2 separate regions of the Homo sapiens genome follow, and region 2 is linked to region 1. Evidence: fine-mapped expression QTL. A gene starts in region 1. The other region holds a variant in brackets. All regions are shown on one strand. Distances are from middle to middle. Region 1 holds the start of PAH (phenylalanine hydroxylase). Region 2 holds the start of ASCL1 (achaete-scute family bHLH transcription factor 1).

Region 1 (8,000 bases):
AAAGTTATATCTAAAAGGAAAAAATTATATAACTTGGAGCAAAAAAATAAAAATACAGCAAAAAAATTAAAATATAAGGGATAACTTTCAAATCAGAGAAAGAAAATTTGATCTATATATCTAGCGGAAAGTTAAAATAGGCTCTATGGTGAGAAAATCCCAAAAGACAATTGATTGTGGGATTGGCCTCTTTAAGTTAAGTGGTATTACCTGGACTGTGGGACCATGTTGAAAAGCCTCTAAGAAATCCCCAAGGCATGTACAGGTATATCTACAATGCAGGTAGATTAAAGATCTAGCTATGATAGATCTAGATGCTAGAGAGAAGAGCACCTCTTTGGAACTTTGGGATGGGGAAGGACTTCTTAAACAATACTCTATAGTACAAACCACAAAAATTTTTAAAAGGATGGACTTGTTATTTCAAAATTACTTGTTTTATTGTTTAATCAAGGAAGGACACCAGTTGACAATTAACTGACAGTGACACATTGGGAGGCAATGTGTTCAGTGACTGAGAAGGGCACAGAGCTAATATTTGGACACAGAGCTAACAGAAATTATTGCAACAAATCTACAAGACAGGAATCCTAGTAGAAAATGGGTAGAAAATATGATGATAAACTATTCATAGCATGGGAAATCTAAGAGGTATAAGTATATAAAGAGATGCTCAAACTCATGAGTTATGAGAGAAATTCAAATTAAAAACAACAAGACACCAGCTTATGCTGATCAGATTGGCAAAAATTCTGACCTTTGGAGAATACCACATATTAGGTATACCCACCAATAGGAACTCTTTTGCCTGCTGGTTGGTGTGTAGACTGGTCCAAGCCACTCTAAAGGGCAATCTGGCAGCACTTTGTGAAATTAAGAGTGCATGTTCCCTATGATTCATAATAGCACCACTCTTCTATCCCAGAAAATTTCTACCCCAGGCCTATAAGGGAAGAAAGATAAGGAAATTTATCACAGTATTGTTTGGGGTGGTGAAAAATTAGCAATGACTTAGATGTCCATAACTGGAAAATAAAGAAGTCAAGTGTGGCAAATACACACTGGGATATTCTGAACCATTTAGAAAAGCAAAGAACTAGATACATATTCAGCAGCATGGCTGGATCCTAAGAACACAGTTGAAAGAAAAAAGAAACTATGAAATCTATAGTACATCCATAGATTGTAGTAAATCTATAGTGCCACATCACATATCCATGAAAAATACATATACGCACAAACATTTCTATGTATTTTACAAGTTCAAGGCTAAACATCATATTAGAGAAGTTGCCTCTGGGGAAAGGCAGTGAGAGTGAGGAATTATGATAAAAGAGAATGAATAAAAAAACAAGAGAAGGGTCATGTAGGTTTTGTTTCTGTGCCATGAACTCATGGATTATGATTAACTCAACCTTCTGCACATGAAGATAAACAAGAAAGAACTGATAAACCTGCAATGGTTGGGTAATCTTCAACTTCCAAATCAGCAAAGGTCAGCTCTAAGTTTGCCAAGTACACAACTTCTCATCTTGTGACATGTTCCCCACCTCTGTGCAGTGTTAAAAAATACCTCAGTGGTCTACTGACTGACTGTGGATGCTTCTTCTAGATGTGCCTTTTTTTCCTCCATTTCCTTAGCACCCAGCACTGCTCTCATTATAGCAGCACATTGCATTCCAACCAAATTGAACAAAAAGGTGGCTTAAAAATCATCTGCAAGTTTATGGCACAAGCAATCTCTTATTTTTATCTTAGTGCATAAATAAATTTTTCCTTTTTGCCAGAATAATTTTTTTTAAAGAAGCGATTAGTTTTTCTTCTCTCAGATAGCAATGATGTGCTTTCCTCTCAACCTAGATTTAGGGCATTTTTATGTGAGATAGGATTAAAAATTCCATTTTTGTACAACCACTATGGAGAACAGTTTGGCAGTTCCCCAAAAAACTAAAAATAGAGCTACTATATGATCTAGTGATCCCACTGCTGGGTATATACCTATAAGAAAGGAAATCAGTATATCAAAGAGATGTCTGTTCTTTTATGTTTGTTGCAGCACTGTTCACAATAGCCAAGATCTGGAAGCAACCCAAGTCTCCATCAACATGGGTTTTAAAAAAATGTGGTACTTTAATACACAATGGAGTACTATTCAGCAATAAAAAAGAATGAGATCCTGTTATTTGCAATAACATGGACAGAACTGGAGGTCATTATGTCAAATGAAATAAGCCAGGCACAGAAAGCCAAACATCACATATTCTCACTCATATGTGGGGTCTAAAAATCAAAACAATCTGATTCATGGAGCTAGAGAGTAGAGAGCTAATTACCAGAGGTGGGGAAGGGTAGTAGGGGCCTGGAGGGGAGGTGGAGATGGTTAATAGGTACAAAAAAATATAGAAAGAATGAATAAGACCTAGTATTTGATAGTACAACAGGGCGAATATAGTCAAAATAATTTAATTATACATTTAAAAATACCTGAAAGAGTATAATTGGCTTGTTTGCAACACAAAAGATAAATGCTTGAGGGGATGGATGCCCCATTTTCAATGATGTGATTATTACACATTGCATGCCTGTATCAAAATATTGCACATACTCCATGAATGCATACATCTACTATGTTCCCACAAAAATTAAACATTAGAAAAAAGAGTTGCATTTTCAGCTGTTATGGGGAGAAGAAAGAAAAGCTATCATTTTGTTGTCCTAAAAATTATGTTGTCCTCATTTCAAACAGGAAAGCAAAAGTATTTGAGAGCCAGTGCAGTGCCTTGGTGTTGGGTGAAACATAGATTGAATTTGGGCCATTTGTTTAAACTTCCTAGGCCTCAGTTTCTTGCCTATTAAAAGGGAGTGCATAGTTCATGGGATTGTTAAGAGGAAGAAGTGAAACCATGCACGTGGAGAGCGTGGCACAGTGTCTAAGACAGAGTGTGCATGCAAATAAGTAGATAATATTCTTTGCTTTTCTTTATTGCATGCCTGTAATATTTTTGGAGTTGTCACATTCATTGCCCTCAAGTAGCATCAAGGGATGAAATTATGTTTGTAAGAAAATCCTGAGGCTGAGGAATACAACATGTTTTATGTCTACTACACTGAAAAATGCCGGAGTCAGATAAAGAATACAGATTCTCCTGAGGATGGAAATCAAGATCTTCGCCTTCAATATTTAACAACATTGAGCTTCCAACTTACTATGGGAAATATTCATCAGGCCCCTAAAGGTTCCTTTTGGACAGAAATTGCACTTGTTATATCTGTATTCTTAGCAGACAGTAGACAGCCTGGCACATCATAAAGGCTTAAGGAATCCTAAATATCCCTTAAAATTCTCATTTTAAAGACAAAAACAAAACAAAAAAAAAAAACAAAAAAAAACTGAGGCATGGGCTTGACCAAATCAGTGGTAGAACCAAGAGTTAAACCACTTGTTTTGAATCCTAAACCTGAGTTTTATTTTACTTATTTATTTATTTATTTGTTTATTTATTTTCAGATGCTTGGTCAAAGAACAGTGGGAGGAGAGGGATGGGCTTCCAGCAACCTTTATTATTGGCTTATTTTCTTACAGCCCATTACTTTCTCTTGGGAAAATATTAAGCAGGCACTCAAGGCTTGAGGCCCCTGAGTTTTCACATCCTTTCTGAACCTCTGAACCTGCTTTCCAGCATTCTTTTATACTTTGTTTTACCTCCTGGTCAGTAATGCCTCACCCTCAGTCTTCTCTAAAAGTGTGGTTAATGGCATCTTCCTGACTATTTGAAGACCACTGGCCAAATCCCACCAGCTCACTCATAGACCATCCCCCTACTTTACTTTCTTCAAAAGACTTAGCCCTACCTAAACTTATTTATATGTTTATTTTCTGCCCACCAGAATGGCAGCATAGCTGGGGAGGCAGAGTCTGTTTTGTTCATTGCTGTATTCCCAAAGACTAGAACACCACCAAGCACACGGTACAGGTCTCAGTAATTATTGTCAAATTTATGTGGATTTGCTTTTAAACAATATCTTCCATTTACTGAGTGTTTATGTGGAAGAACTGTACTAAATTTTAATGCATTTCTTTATTCCTATTCTTAAAACCTTCCAGCAAGGTGGCTCTACCACCCTCTTTTCCGAGCTTCAGGAGCAGTTGTGCGAATAGCTGGAGAACACCAGGCTGGATTTAAACCCAGATCGCTCTTACATTTGCTCTTTACCTGCTGTGCTCAGCGTTCACGTGCCCTCTAGCTGTAGTTTTCTGAAGTCAGCGCACAGCAAGGCAGTGTGCTTAGAGGTTAACAGAAGGGAAAACAACAACAACAAAAATCTAAATGAGAATCCTGACTGTTTCAGCTGGGGGTAAGGGGGGCGGATTATTCATATAATTGTTATACCAGACGGTCGCAGGCTTAGTCCAATTGCAGAGAACTCGCTTCCCAGGCTTCTGAGAGTCCCGGAAGTGCCTAAACCTGTCTAATCGACGGGGCTTGGGTGGCCCGTCGCTCCCTGGCTTCTTCCCTTTACCCAGGGCGGGCAGCGAAGTGGTGCCTCCTGCGTCCCCCACACCCTCCCTCAGCCCCTCCCCTCCGGCCCGTCCTGGGCAGGTGACCTGGAGCATCCGGCAGGCTGCCCTGGCCTCCTGCGTCAGGACAACGCCCACGAGGGGCGTTACTGTGCGGAGATGCACCACGCAAGAGACACCCTTTGTAACTCTCTTCTCCTCCCTAGTGCGAGGTTAAAACCTTCAGCCCCACGTGCTGTTTGCAAACCTGCCTGTACCTGAGGCCCTAAAAAGCCAGAGACCTCACTCCCGGGGAGCCAGCATGTCCACTGCGGTCCTGGAAAACCCAGGCTTGGGCAGGAAACTCTCTGACTTTGGACAGGTGAGCCACGGCAGCCTGAGCTGCTCAGTTAGGGGAATTTGGGCCTCCAGAGAAAGAGATCCGAAGACTGCTGGTGCTTCCTGGTTTCATAAGCTCAGTAAGAAGTCTGAATTCGTTGGAAGCTGATGAGAATATCCAGGAAGTCAACAGACAAATGTCCTCAACAATTGTTTCTAAGTAGGAGAACATCTGTCCTCGGTGGCTTTCACAGGAATGAATGACCATTGCTTTAGGGGGTTGGGGATCTGGCCTCCAGAACTGCCACCAATTAGCTGTGTGTCTTTGGACAAGTTACTGTCCCTCTCTGTTGTCTGTTTACTCTTCTGTACACTGAAGGGGCTGGTCCCTAATGATCTGGGATGGGATGTGGAATCCTTCTAGATTTCTTTTGTAATATTTATAAAGTGCTCTCAGCAAGGTATCAAAATGGCAAAATTGTGAGTAACTATCCTCCTTTCATTTTGGGAAGAAGATGAGGCATGAAGAGAATTCAGACAGAAACTTACTCAGACCAGGGGAGGCAGAAACTAAGCAGAGAGGAAAATGACCAAGAGTTAGCCCTGGGCATGGAATGTGAAAGAACCCTAAACGTGACTTGGAAATAATGCCCAAGGTATATTCCATTCTCCGGGATTTGTTGGCATTTTCTTGAGGTGAAGAATTGCAGAATACATTCTTTAATGTGACCTACATATTTACCCATGGGAGGAAGTCTGCTCCTGGACTCTTGAGATTCAGTCATAAAGCCCAGGCCAGGGAAATAATGTAAGTCTGCAGGCCCCTGTCATCAGTAGGATTAGGGAGAAGAGTTCTCAGTAGAAAACAGGGAGGCTGGAGAGAAAAGAATGGTTAATGTTAACGTTAATATAACTAGAAAGACTGCAGAACTTAGGACTGATTTTTATTTGAATCCTTAAAAAAAAAAATTTCTTATGAAAATAGTACATGGCTCTTAGGAGACAGAACTTATTGTACAGAGGAACAGCGTGAGAGTCAGAGTGATCCCAGAACAGGTCCTGGCTCCATCCTGCACATAGTTTTGGTGCTGCTGGCAATACGGTCCCCACAACTGTGGGAAGGGGTTAGGGGCAGGGATCTCATCAGGAAAGCATAGGGGTTTAAAGTTCTTTATAGAGCACTTAGAAGATTGAGAATCCACAAATTATATTAATAACAAACAAAGTAGTGTCGTGTTATATAGTAAATGTGAATTTGCAGACACATTTAGGGAAAAGTTATAATTAAAAAAATAGGCTGTATATATATCAATGGTTCCAAAATTTTCTATGGTTAAGAATCACCTGGGATGGTTTTGAAATGGCAGATTCTAAGACAACTTGATTCAACAGGTTTAGGTAAAGCCCAGGGAACTGCATTATAAGAAGGAATCACCTGTAATTTTGGAGTCAAGATCCAAGGAACACTCATTGAGAAACACTGATTTACAAAGTGCATGGAGAGAAATGGAGCAAGTGAAGGGGGATCAGCATGGTGAAATATAGGCTGTTAGGAGTGCTATTGACTAACTGTCTGGTGACTGGACCAGAGTAAATCTTTTACTTTGCAAGAAACAGGACTAAATTCCCATATTATGTCCATAGCAAAGGGAATTATGTAGAAAAATTGATAATTAGGAGCCTGAGTTCTTGACCAGCCTCCACTACCTATGTGGCCTCAGGTGAGTTATTTTCTCCCTTTGGCTCTAAGTTTTCCCCATCTGTAATGTAAGGGAGTTTAACTAGATGAGCACTAAGGACAAATCAATTTCTGTGAGTCAATTATTATGAAATACCATGTGGGCATCAAATGCCAAGTGGAAAGCATAGATAAAGAAGTGATTGTGCACCTGGGCTGAGGGGAACAAACATTTCCTAAGAGAATTGAGACCCAAAAGAGCCTTTAAGGAAGGTGAGATCTTGGAAAGGGAAATTTGGTGAATACTCTAATGAGGAGCTAAAAAGGCAAGAAAGAAAGCAGCTTGGCTGGAAAGGAGGTTCCTGTAGGTGGGCCTCCAGAGATTCGGTACCACAGAAACTGCCAAACATCAGCAAGAAGCCATGGGGATGGAGCGTTTGAGGGATTCTAAATAGAAGGACAAGAGTAAAAATGTCAGGCTGGATCGATGCAGGCCACTAAGAAATGGATTCAGGTGATGGCAGTGGGAAGAAAGGACCTGATGCCCAGAGGCATTTCTGGAGAAGATGAGATCAGACTTGTGATTGGCTGAACACACACTGTAGTGGGGTGGGGTTTAGGGGGTGACTCAACTTCAAGCCCAGGTACATTCAAGTCTGAATTGCCCTAGTCAAAAGTGGCATCTGTGGATGTGTATCAGAAATATCTTACTTTTCTTGGAAGCCAACAGGAGAAAAGAGTGCTACCAAGTGAACTAGAGACAGGAATATCTTTTGTCATTTCAAGGAAACTGGAAAGAAGAAGGCTCAGTATTCTTTAGTAGGAAGAAGACTTAAGTCAGAGACTCATCTGTACCTCTCTGGCAGGGTTTAAAAGGGGGAAGAGGAATAGAGGCTGCAAGAGATTGTGATTCATGGACAGTATGCAGAGATCAAATGACCTGGGTTCAGATCCTGGCTCCACTGCTAACTGTGTAACTATAGGCAAGTTCCTTAACCTCTCTAAGCCTTAATCTTGTCATCAATAAAAGGGGGCACTTGGTGCCTAATAAAACCTACCTCTTAGGTTGTTGCCAAATTACATGAGATAATCCAAATCAAGTGCTTATTATAATACCCAGAAATTATAGGCTCTAAATAAATGTTTATATAGGCTCTAAATAAATGAAGTTTTTTAGAAAGATAACATCATGATCAAAATGGGATATTTAACAGTTTAGTCTTCCATTTCATTTGAAGCTCCCTAAAATCACTCTTGCTGATAAATTTGTTTTTTCCTTCACACCTCAGTTTCATGGGATGTTTTGGCAAAAATCTGAATTTTCTGAATTGAAAGAATTTTTTGCTAAGGGTCATCAGTATTCATGCAGGGCTTGTTATTCTGAGTCACTAAGAGTTTCCTAACACAGCCTTCTCTCATTGAGATGATGTAACATCTATTCCATTAATTTCATTAACTTGCTTACAAGAGAGTAATTGTTCTGCA
Region 2 (8,647 bases), 40 kb before region 1:
GGAAAAAAGAAGAAAGAAAGAAAAGAAAGAAAGAAAAAGAAAGAAAGAAAGAGAAAGAAGAAAGAAAGAAAGAAAGAAAGAAAGAAAGAGAAAGAAAGGAAGGAAGAAAGAAAGAAAGAAAGAAAGAAAGAAAGAAAGAAAGAAAGAAAGAAAGAAAAGAAAAATGGGTGGGGGCTAAGACGGGGGAGAGGCTACTATTGCTAGCCTCTGGGGTCTACATTTTGTATTTCGCTGACAGCCCAGGGCCGCTCCAAAGCCCGCCGCGCAGCCAATGGGCAGCGGTGATTTATGGAGCTGACTAACGCGCGCTGAATGCGGCCTGTCAGAGCTCTGTGAATGGCTTCCCTTCGCCGCACAAGCCCCGGCTTTGTGTTGCTAAGCGATTAGAGCAGATGTAATGAGATTTTGCCCAATCCTCGCTTTGCCCTTTCCTAGCTTAGGCAAAATTGTGTGTGTTTTTGTGAATTTTTCGAGTTTGCCTTCGCATTGTGGCAAACAACGACTAACTTTGCCTCGAGTTTAACGAGACTGGATATTTCCCATTCAGAAGTGAGTAAAGAACACCTGTCCTCACAGGAGAAGGAAAAAAAAATCCCCCTTTGTGGGGGCTGAAACATTATCCTAATGTTATATTCATAGCCATAAATGACTTGCTACACTTTCTTTGCATACCTTATCTGGAATCTTGCAAAGGAGCTAAATTAAAGGAAAGAGAAATGGAGAGTGGGGGTGGAGCCCATCTCTGGTCCTCCAAATGAGAAGATAAAAATAAAAGCAGGCATCACAAAAGCATTACTTCTCTCAAGTAAGCTCTAAATTGGCCCACTGCTGGCAGAAAGTCCGATTATTTATGGCGATGAGGAATTTACTGATTTTTTTTCCTTAATTACGCTCATCTCTTTGAAAGGGACTGAAGCCTCAATGTGCATTCTATAGAGGGTCATTTAGCAAAATGACATCAGACGCTGTGGCGTGCTCCGCGCATCGTGGCTTTAAAAAATGATTATTCTGTGCCACTAAATGGTATAGATGTACCAACACAGACTAGATTTTTAACTCTGGAAGACGTGCTGGCTACCCGTTCTTTGTTGGGTTTTGTAAGATGCATTTTGCGCTCGGCTTTCCGCTTGGCTGGAGACACGCAAACTGAATCTGCAAGTAATGCAGGCGGCGAGCGAGGAGCCGGCGAGAGGCCGAGTAGGATTCTAATCACGTCCTTGCTAACTGACAAGAAGCAAGCCAGCCAAAAACCCACCAATTTCTTTTTGAATCTTGGTAATTGGGTACTTTTACACGCAGCTCACGCTATTCGGATAGAGTCACAAGCTTAGATAGACCAGTGTCTCAAAGCGACCACACATTTCTAATGCGTTTTTTTAATTAAAATCTCAATCCGTTTGGAATGAATTCATATCATATATGCCTCTTACTTAAAATCAATATAGCAAGTAGGTGTATTGGAGAAAATGAGTAGAAAATGTATGCCTGGAAGTGAGGGAAGAGAAACATACTCACCACTAGGAGCTTGTATGTGGAGAGGGATGCCTCTCCAACCCCCATCCCAGAACCACCATCCTCCCCACCCAGACCTAGTCTCCATTATTTCATCCAGCCCCACCATAGTTTCACAGGGAGAAACTCAGAATGGAGTTGAGAATTGGAAAATGGTGGAGGACCCTCTCTTTCTGGTTCACTTTTTTGGGGGATTTTAAATTTTGATCAAAGGATAATGCAGCCATCTATTCTTTTTGGTGGGCATGTACATTTGCAGCATAGGATAGAAAGAAAACATATATACATGTACATACACACACACACACACACACACACAAACACACACTCATTCATCATAAAGAAACCATTTGGATGGGACTGGCCATAGCACTTATCATTGTCATTTCTGCCACTTAGCATGTTTTGCAACATTTTCTTCTCCATCCACCTCTTCCCTTTGACATTTTCATAAAACTGGACCAGGGGCATCAGAGTCAAAGAAAGCTTAGAGTCAGCTGATTATTTTCATTTTAAAAAAAGGAAAAAGTTTTATTACGAAACTAGTTTGTATAAAACAGGGTTATACATATTTTTGTAAGTTTGTAATAAAACAGTAAGAAAAAAAAAGGCAGTAATAGAAATCTCCAAAAGGCAACCTATCAAAACCAACTGGCTGCCACTTTGAGTTTGGACAGTAGCTGCATAAACTTTGTTCTTCTTGAACAGTATTTAATAACATCATTAATACATTAACAACATTTCTATAAAGTAAGACACATTGGTGCTGAAGTACAACTGGTGGCCTCTTGATCTCACCTATGAGGAGAGTTCTTTACAAAACCACATAGGGAAAATTGCAGTTGTAAGGTGAACTACACATCTAAAATATGCAGAGGTAATAGCATTACATGTTAAAGTATCAAGATATACACATTTTAAACCATTTGTACAAAACTTCTATAAATTTTTCTCTCTCTTTCTCTCTTATGTACAAAAATATCTTAATATATCCCCGAACTGGTTAGGATAGATACAAATAGATTTTTTATAATAAAAAATTCACAAAAGATTGGAAGCATTCTATAATGAAAATGGTAGAAAAGACAGTGTGAGGGAAGCCATGGGGTTTGGGAATCGGGCCCTGGAGGAGAAGCAGAGTTTCAAAGGGCTGAGAATAGCATAGTTTCACTGTAAACCAATGTCTACAGCTTATTGGGGTGGGGGCTACTGAGACGAAAGACACCAACTCGTTTCTAGAGGGCTAAGAACTGCACTTTAAGAAAGGGCGAGGAGGTGAAGGGACCCGAGCAAGAACTTTCAGCTGTGCGTGTTAGAGGTGATGGGAGTTACTATAACGCGTGTGCTGCTCCCTTCTGCCAGGAGCCCACTGCTTTTGCACACAAGCTGCATTTTGCGCATTGACTCAGGTCCCAGTTGCTCTTCATATCTCCGTGAATGATTGGAGTGCAAAGATACTGTTCTGAGCGCTTCCCGTTTTCTGAAAGCCATGTCTCTCAGGCATGCCTCGCTTAGTTGGCGATGGGGTTGGTTGACTGTTTTCGTTTTTTTCTTCTTCTCTTTTCTTCTTCTTCTTCTTTTTTTTTTCTTTTCCTTTTCTCCCCCTCCCAACGCCACTGACAAGAAAGCACTAAAGATGCAGGTTGTGCGATCACCCTATAACATAAGGAAAAGAACAGGAGAGGTTAATTTGAACGTGTAGGCTAGTGGTAGAGGGAGATGGAGGTCTGGGGAAAGAGTCTGTCAGGTAGACATCTCTTTTAACATGTCCCAGTATTCGGTTCACCAGTATCTCTGCACCTCACTACTACCCTTCACTCCTTGGAGACCTGGGCAAGGCCATTTTCAGAGGCCAGTGCTGAAACTAACAAACTAGGACTTGAAATCGACCAACTTTCACAAATTCTTTAAATAAAAATCCCCTTATCTCCTTGGAGACATCCCCACTTCCACAGACACTCAGAGGGAGGACGAAGGCAAGAATACCCCCCTGCCCACCCCAAAATGCAACCTACCTGCTTCCAAAGTCCATTCGCACCAGGGCCTGACCAGGCCGAGCCCCTCAGAACCAGTTGGTGAAGTCGAGAAGCTCCTGCTCCTCGGGGCTGAGCGGGTCGTAAGAGCCCTCGTCCGACGAGTAGGATGAGACCGGCGAGCCGGCCATGGAGTTCAAGTCGTTGGAGTAGTTGGGGGAGATGGTGGGCGACAGGACGCCTGCCTGGAAGGCGGCGCTCACCGCGTCATGCTCGTCCAGCAGCTGCTGCAGCGCGCGGATGTACTCGACCGCCGAGCGCAGTGTCTCCACCTTACTCATCTTCTTGTTGGCCGCGCCGTTGGGGACGTGCTCCCGAAGGGTGGCAAAGCCCAGGTTGACCAACTTGACGCGGTTGCGCTCGCGCTCGTTGCGGCGCGCCACGGCGGCCGGCTGCTGCTGCGGCAGGCTGTAGCCAAAGCCGCTGAAGTTGAGCCGGCGTTTGCAGCGCATCAGTTCGGGCGAAGACGAGCGCTGTCGCTTGACTTGCTTGGGCGCTGACTTGTGACCGCCCCCTGAGGGCTGGCCGTCGGCCGCCGGTCTCAGCTGCGGCGCCTGCTGCTGCTGCTGCTGCTGCTGCTGCTGCTGCTGCGCGCTCTGCGCTGCCGCTGCGGCGGCTGCGGCCGCCGCGGCTGCGGCCGTGGCAAAGAAACAGGCTGCGGGCGGCAGGAAGGGCTGCTGGGGCTGCGGCTGGGGCTGCTGGCCGGCGCCGCCGCTCTCCATCTTGGCAGAGCTTTCCATGCGCAGCGGCGGCCAAGGAGTCGCGGAATCAGAGCGATCCGGGACGCGAGGTGCGGGGCCCGCGAGGGGGACACAGAGAGAACTTGGGTGCAGGAACAGAGAGGGAAAGAAAAGGAAATATGAAGCGGGAGCCCTGACGGAAGTTAAAAAATATATACAAAATCCCCGGGAGACTTCTTAGAGTGGGAGCAAAAAA[A/G]GTGAAAATGCTTTTTCTCCTCCCTGCACGCCGCCTCCTCCTCCCTCCCCTCCTCCCTTCGCGGGTTGGCTTCGGGAGCCTCGCGTGGCGCTCGCGTGTGAGGCTGCCGCTGGCGCCTTCTTGTTTCTAAGAAAAAAAAAAGCAGAAGCAGCAGCAAAAGTCAGTGCTGAACGCGCTCTGCCGCGTCTCGCGTTCCTCTCCTACTAAGGCTGCGCTCTCTTGCGCCGGGTCTCGGTCTCTCCAGCCGTGGCTCAGGCTGTTTTTATTATTTTGTTAACTCCCTTCCTTTCTGATTTCCTTCTTTCACTCGCCCTCCCTGGCCGGATCCCTGTCGGTGCGCCTTCCACGTTCCCTGGCCAGAAGTGAGAGAGTGCTGGGCTGCCGGAGTGCGTCCGCCTTTTCAATGGGACACCCAGCCCCACGCGCAGCCCTGGCCCCGCCTCGCCCCCCACTCCCCGCTGCTGCAGCGAGCGGCTGCAGCCCCCACTCCCCCCCCTCCTCTTACCTCTTCCTCCCACCCACTCCCTAAACTCCCCCTCCTCCTCTCCTCTCCCCCCCTCCCGTTCCTTTCTCCCGCTCCTTGCAAACTCTCCATTCAGCTGGGTTTGTTGTTGCAGTGCGTGCGCCTGGCGCGTGCCGGACTCCCGGCTGAATAAACAGGCGGCGCGCTCGGGGCGGGCTGCTGCCGGGGGTGGCTTTAGGAAGGGGGTGGGGGGCGTCACAGGAGGGACAAATGGCTCTAGGAATTGAGGTGTATAGGTGGAAAGACTTGGGGTGAAGCTCTCTTGGATTCTACTAAGAACTTGAAGCAAAGCGCAGGGAAGGGTTTGGGCAGAAAAAATGGCACAGGAACGGTGTGGAGGTGAGGAGGGAGTGGGGCTCGACTTTTCCTGTTTTCTCTCTCTCCTCACTGTTATTCTCTTCGGGTTCCTCGGTGACCCTAGAAATTGGAGCAAATTACGATTGAAGTTTAGAAACATGGTTGGGGGAGGGACTCCGTCCAGAACAGTGAAAAAAAGTGCTGGACTATGTGAAAACGTGGGTTCTAGTCCCAAGGCGTCCTCTCAATGCTCTGTGGCTCCTCGAAGTGGCATCCTCTCTGAGCCTTCGCTTCCTCGTCTGCAGCCACAGAATATGGTCTCTAATGTCCCATTCAGCTCTAAAAACTAGGATGTGCTCCCCATAACTGAGCAAGTGTGTGGGGGGCCGCGGGGAAGCGACACCGAGGAGTGGTTGTGAGCCGTCCTGTAGGTGGGTGTATATGGCAGGGACGTCCCCCTAGGATGACCTCTGGCCCCCTGTACCATCGCCCCCTACCGCCACCCCCTCCCCATAAAGATTATTTCCGGACCAGCTTAGCGGATATCATAAAGAAGGGAGTGCTCTGGGATACTCCCAGACCCTCGGAGAAGAAAGATGCGGGGCGGGGGTTGAGTGATGGCGCTTAGGGCACTGGTGGGGATTCCTGGTTCTTCGGCGCCGCCGCGGGCACCTCGGCGGCCTTGGCGCAGCCACCATCCCGCCCCAGGCGTGTGCCCGGCGGCCCGGTGGCAGGCGACTGGGAGCGGAGCCCGGCGGGGCCGCGTGCTGGCGCCGAGAGGGAGGGGGAGGCGCTTGCAGCCGTCGCTCGACCGCTTGGACAGCGCCTGCCCAGGCGTCCTTCCTGGGCCTTCGGCCCTGGCGCTCTCTGGCCAGAACCCCGTCCAGCTTCAGGACGTCTGGGGACGCGGCGCTGCGGAGAAAGCAGACCAAGCAATAGGCCCCATCTCTTTAAGGATCTGGTCCGGAGAGAGGCTGGGGCATGTCTCAGGTCTTGTCTACATAGGCAGAACGAAGTGGAGGGCAATCATCCATTTGATTTTCCAGTAGAAATAATCCGAGATCTGGGTGCAGGAATGATTGTGGTGAATTATCCGGATAATTGGTTCTAATTGAACTCCCCTTTGTGGAGGTGGATCTTTCTAAAGGGCCAAGGGGATGACCCAGGGAGCTGCTCTTGGTATGTGGGCTGGCTGAGTGTTTCTGGAACAATAGTGATGATGGTGGGCAGTAATGACGGGCGGCTCCCGAAGTGAATCACCTCTCTTCTCTACCTCAGTTTCATCTTTGCAGAATAGGTAGGCTTCAGAGGTATAGGACCAAATCGTGCCAACAGAGGTCAATTCTGTAACCTTTCCCAGCCACACAGCCCCTTCTCCCCATGGTAACCTGTGGCTTGATGGCCTCACAGGACTGGCTGAACCCCGTGGGATTCACACCTCAGGCCTTTCTCCACATCCCTGACCAAGGAAAGGGCCTAAGAGGTCTCTGGAAGTATAGGAGGTGAGCACCCAAAAGCAGAGTCACAACACAGCCTGGGCACCCTGCACCTCCCAGCCAGAGTAAGCCTCAGACCACTTGCAGAAATAGGAATTATTCAGGCACTCCTTACCCACCTCCCACATGACCCAGCTGTGTCCTAATGCCCCATTCACTCTATTTCAGCCAAATAGTTGAGTGTTGGGGGTGGGAGGGAGTGTCGCAAATGTGGAAGCATCTAGATGTGTTTTCTTTTACATTAAGCTGAAACATGAGCCCCAAACTCCCTACTAACTTGGACTCACTTCACAAAGGTCCCGAGTCTGAGCTCTACCACAATGGTGCCTTATAACCTTGAACAAGTCCCTCTGCCTCTACTGGCCTCAGTTTTCTGATCTACACACAAGGGATGTACAGTAGCTAATTTTGAAACTTGTATCTAACAGCTTAGAAAATTTGCTGGTAGCCAGCACGTGTTTCCTTTTCCAGGATGCATACACAGAGATCTCAATACCAGGGAAGTAGAGGACAGAACCTCCTCTCCTCCTCCCCCCTACACACACCATGAAATGGGTGCCCAAATGGAGTGGAAGTGCATTGTAGTGAAGAAGCCTTGTCTTGTAGTGGCCTTACTCATTGGCCTCAGGCCAGGAGGAAGGACAGTCGTTGCTGGGATCCTTCTGGCCAAAACCGCCAGAACATTTGTCTCTATTCTCCCTATGCCAGCCCTGAGCCTGACCTCACTCTTCTCACCCTAGTATGCTAAGTTTTCTTCCTTACATGCTTTGCAAAGCCTTCCAAGAACCGAGGCGTTCTCCTCCCCCCACTCAAGTAAACCTGGAGTTTGCACCTCAACACTGTCATCTCCACTTTCTCCTCCAACCCTAGGGTAGAACAGTCTATAATTTTTCTTTAGAGGTTTGCATTTCTATCCTTGGGGATTCTACCAAGAGAGTTTTCCATTGATATTGGCTTTCTGGTTGTTTTCACCAGTGTGAAGCAAAAGATGGGAGGCTCAGGAGCCAAAATTAGAATCCTGCCTCTGACTGTGTGACCTAGATTATAATCCCTCCTCCCGACCTGAGAGAACTGGCCACATGTTCTGCTCTCCTAGGCCCATGGAATTCCAGATAAAGCAGGCTGATTTGACTTGGTATCTAGGCCCCTTTACCTGAGAGCTGTGTGACCCTGAGACACTCTAGGGGTCTCTATTTCACCTATGCCAGTAATTATAGTATCTACCTCCAAGAGTTGTGAGACTTCAATGATATGTATGTAGAGCACTCTAGCCCAGGTCTAAAGAGAAAGGGATTAATAAGAAAGTCATGCTCACACAACCCACCCAGGAAAGGGTGTGTGGCAGGAGGAGCCTCAGCACTTGGCTTCCTGGAACCACTCTGTGATCATCACTCCAGCCAATGGAGATCCAGTGCCACTCTGTCTCACTGTCCCAGCACCTAGGGGTGAGTCATTCCTGTCATTTTTGAGAAATGGTGGTGATACTGGCATATTAAGATGATGGAGATAGTAACCCGATTTTTAGACATGAAAAGTAGCAAGTAAGATAGACTATAGAGATGTTCTGTGGCCTCCACATGCAAGGGGCTTCAGCAGAGCCACTGGGCCCTGCTTTCTTGGCTCCCTTGCCACACAGTGGGCCTGATTCTGAGCAAGTCCTTAGGGCTTTAGTTGGCTAAGACACTTGAACAATGTCCCATTTATCTTCACATGAAGGGAGAAGTAAACAACTCACAAAAGGAAGGTTTGATACCTTCATTCATAAATGAGGTGGTAGTACTCCCTTTGCCTGTATGTCAAGGGTGTTATGAGAATTAAATCAGATGTTGTTGGGTAATTTGCTTTGCAAG

The links. PIP is the estimated chance that this variant, and not a neighbour inherited with it, causes the effect.
Region 2: its variant is fine-mapped to the expression of PAH in prefrontal cortex (BrainSeq, PIP 0.95).

What each region holds. Positions count from the first base shown.
Region 1 is chr12:102,913,951-102,921,950 of GRCh38, reverse strand. It overlaps PAH (phenylalanine hydroxylase), which reads left to right and starts at 4,707. Exons shown (of 13, transcript NM_000277.3): 1 at 4,707-4,880. The coding sequence starts at 4,821.
Region 2 is chr12:102,953,883-102,962,529 of GRCh38, reverse strand. ASCL1 (achaete-scute family bHLH transcription factor 1) reads right to left here and starts at 4,856. Exons shown (of 2, transcript NM_004316.4): 1 at 3,528-4,856; 2 at 2,017-3,168. The coding sequence starts at 4,285. The coding sequence ends at 3,575. It also overlaps a transcript of PAH not described here. RefSeq lists enhancers at 1-1,980, 3,326-3,857, 3,858-4,389 and a silencer at 4,150-4,219. The variant A/G (reference allele first, on the strand shown) is at 4,482.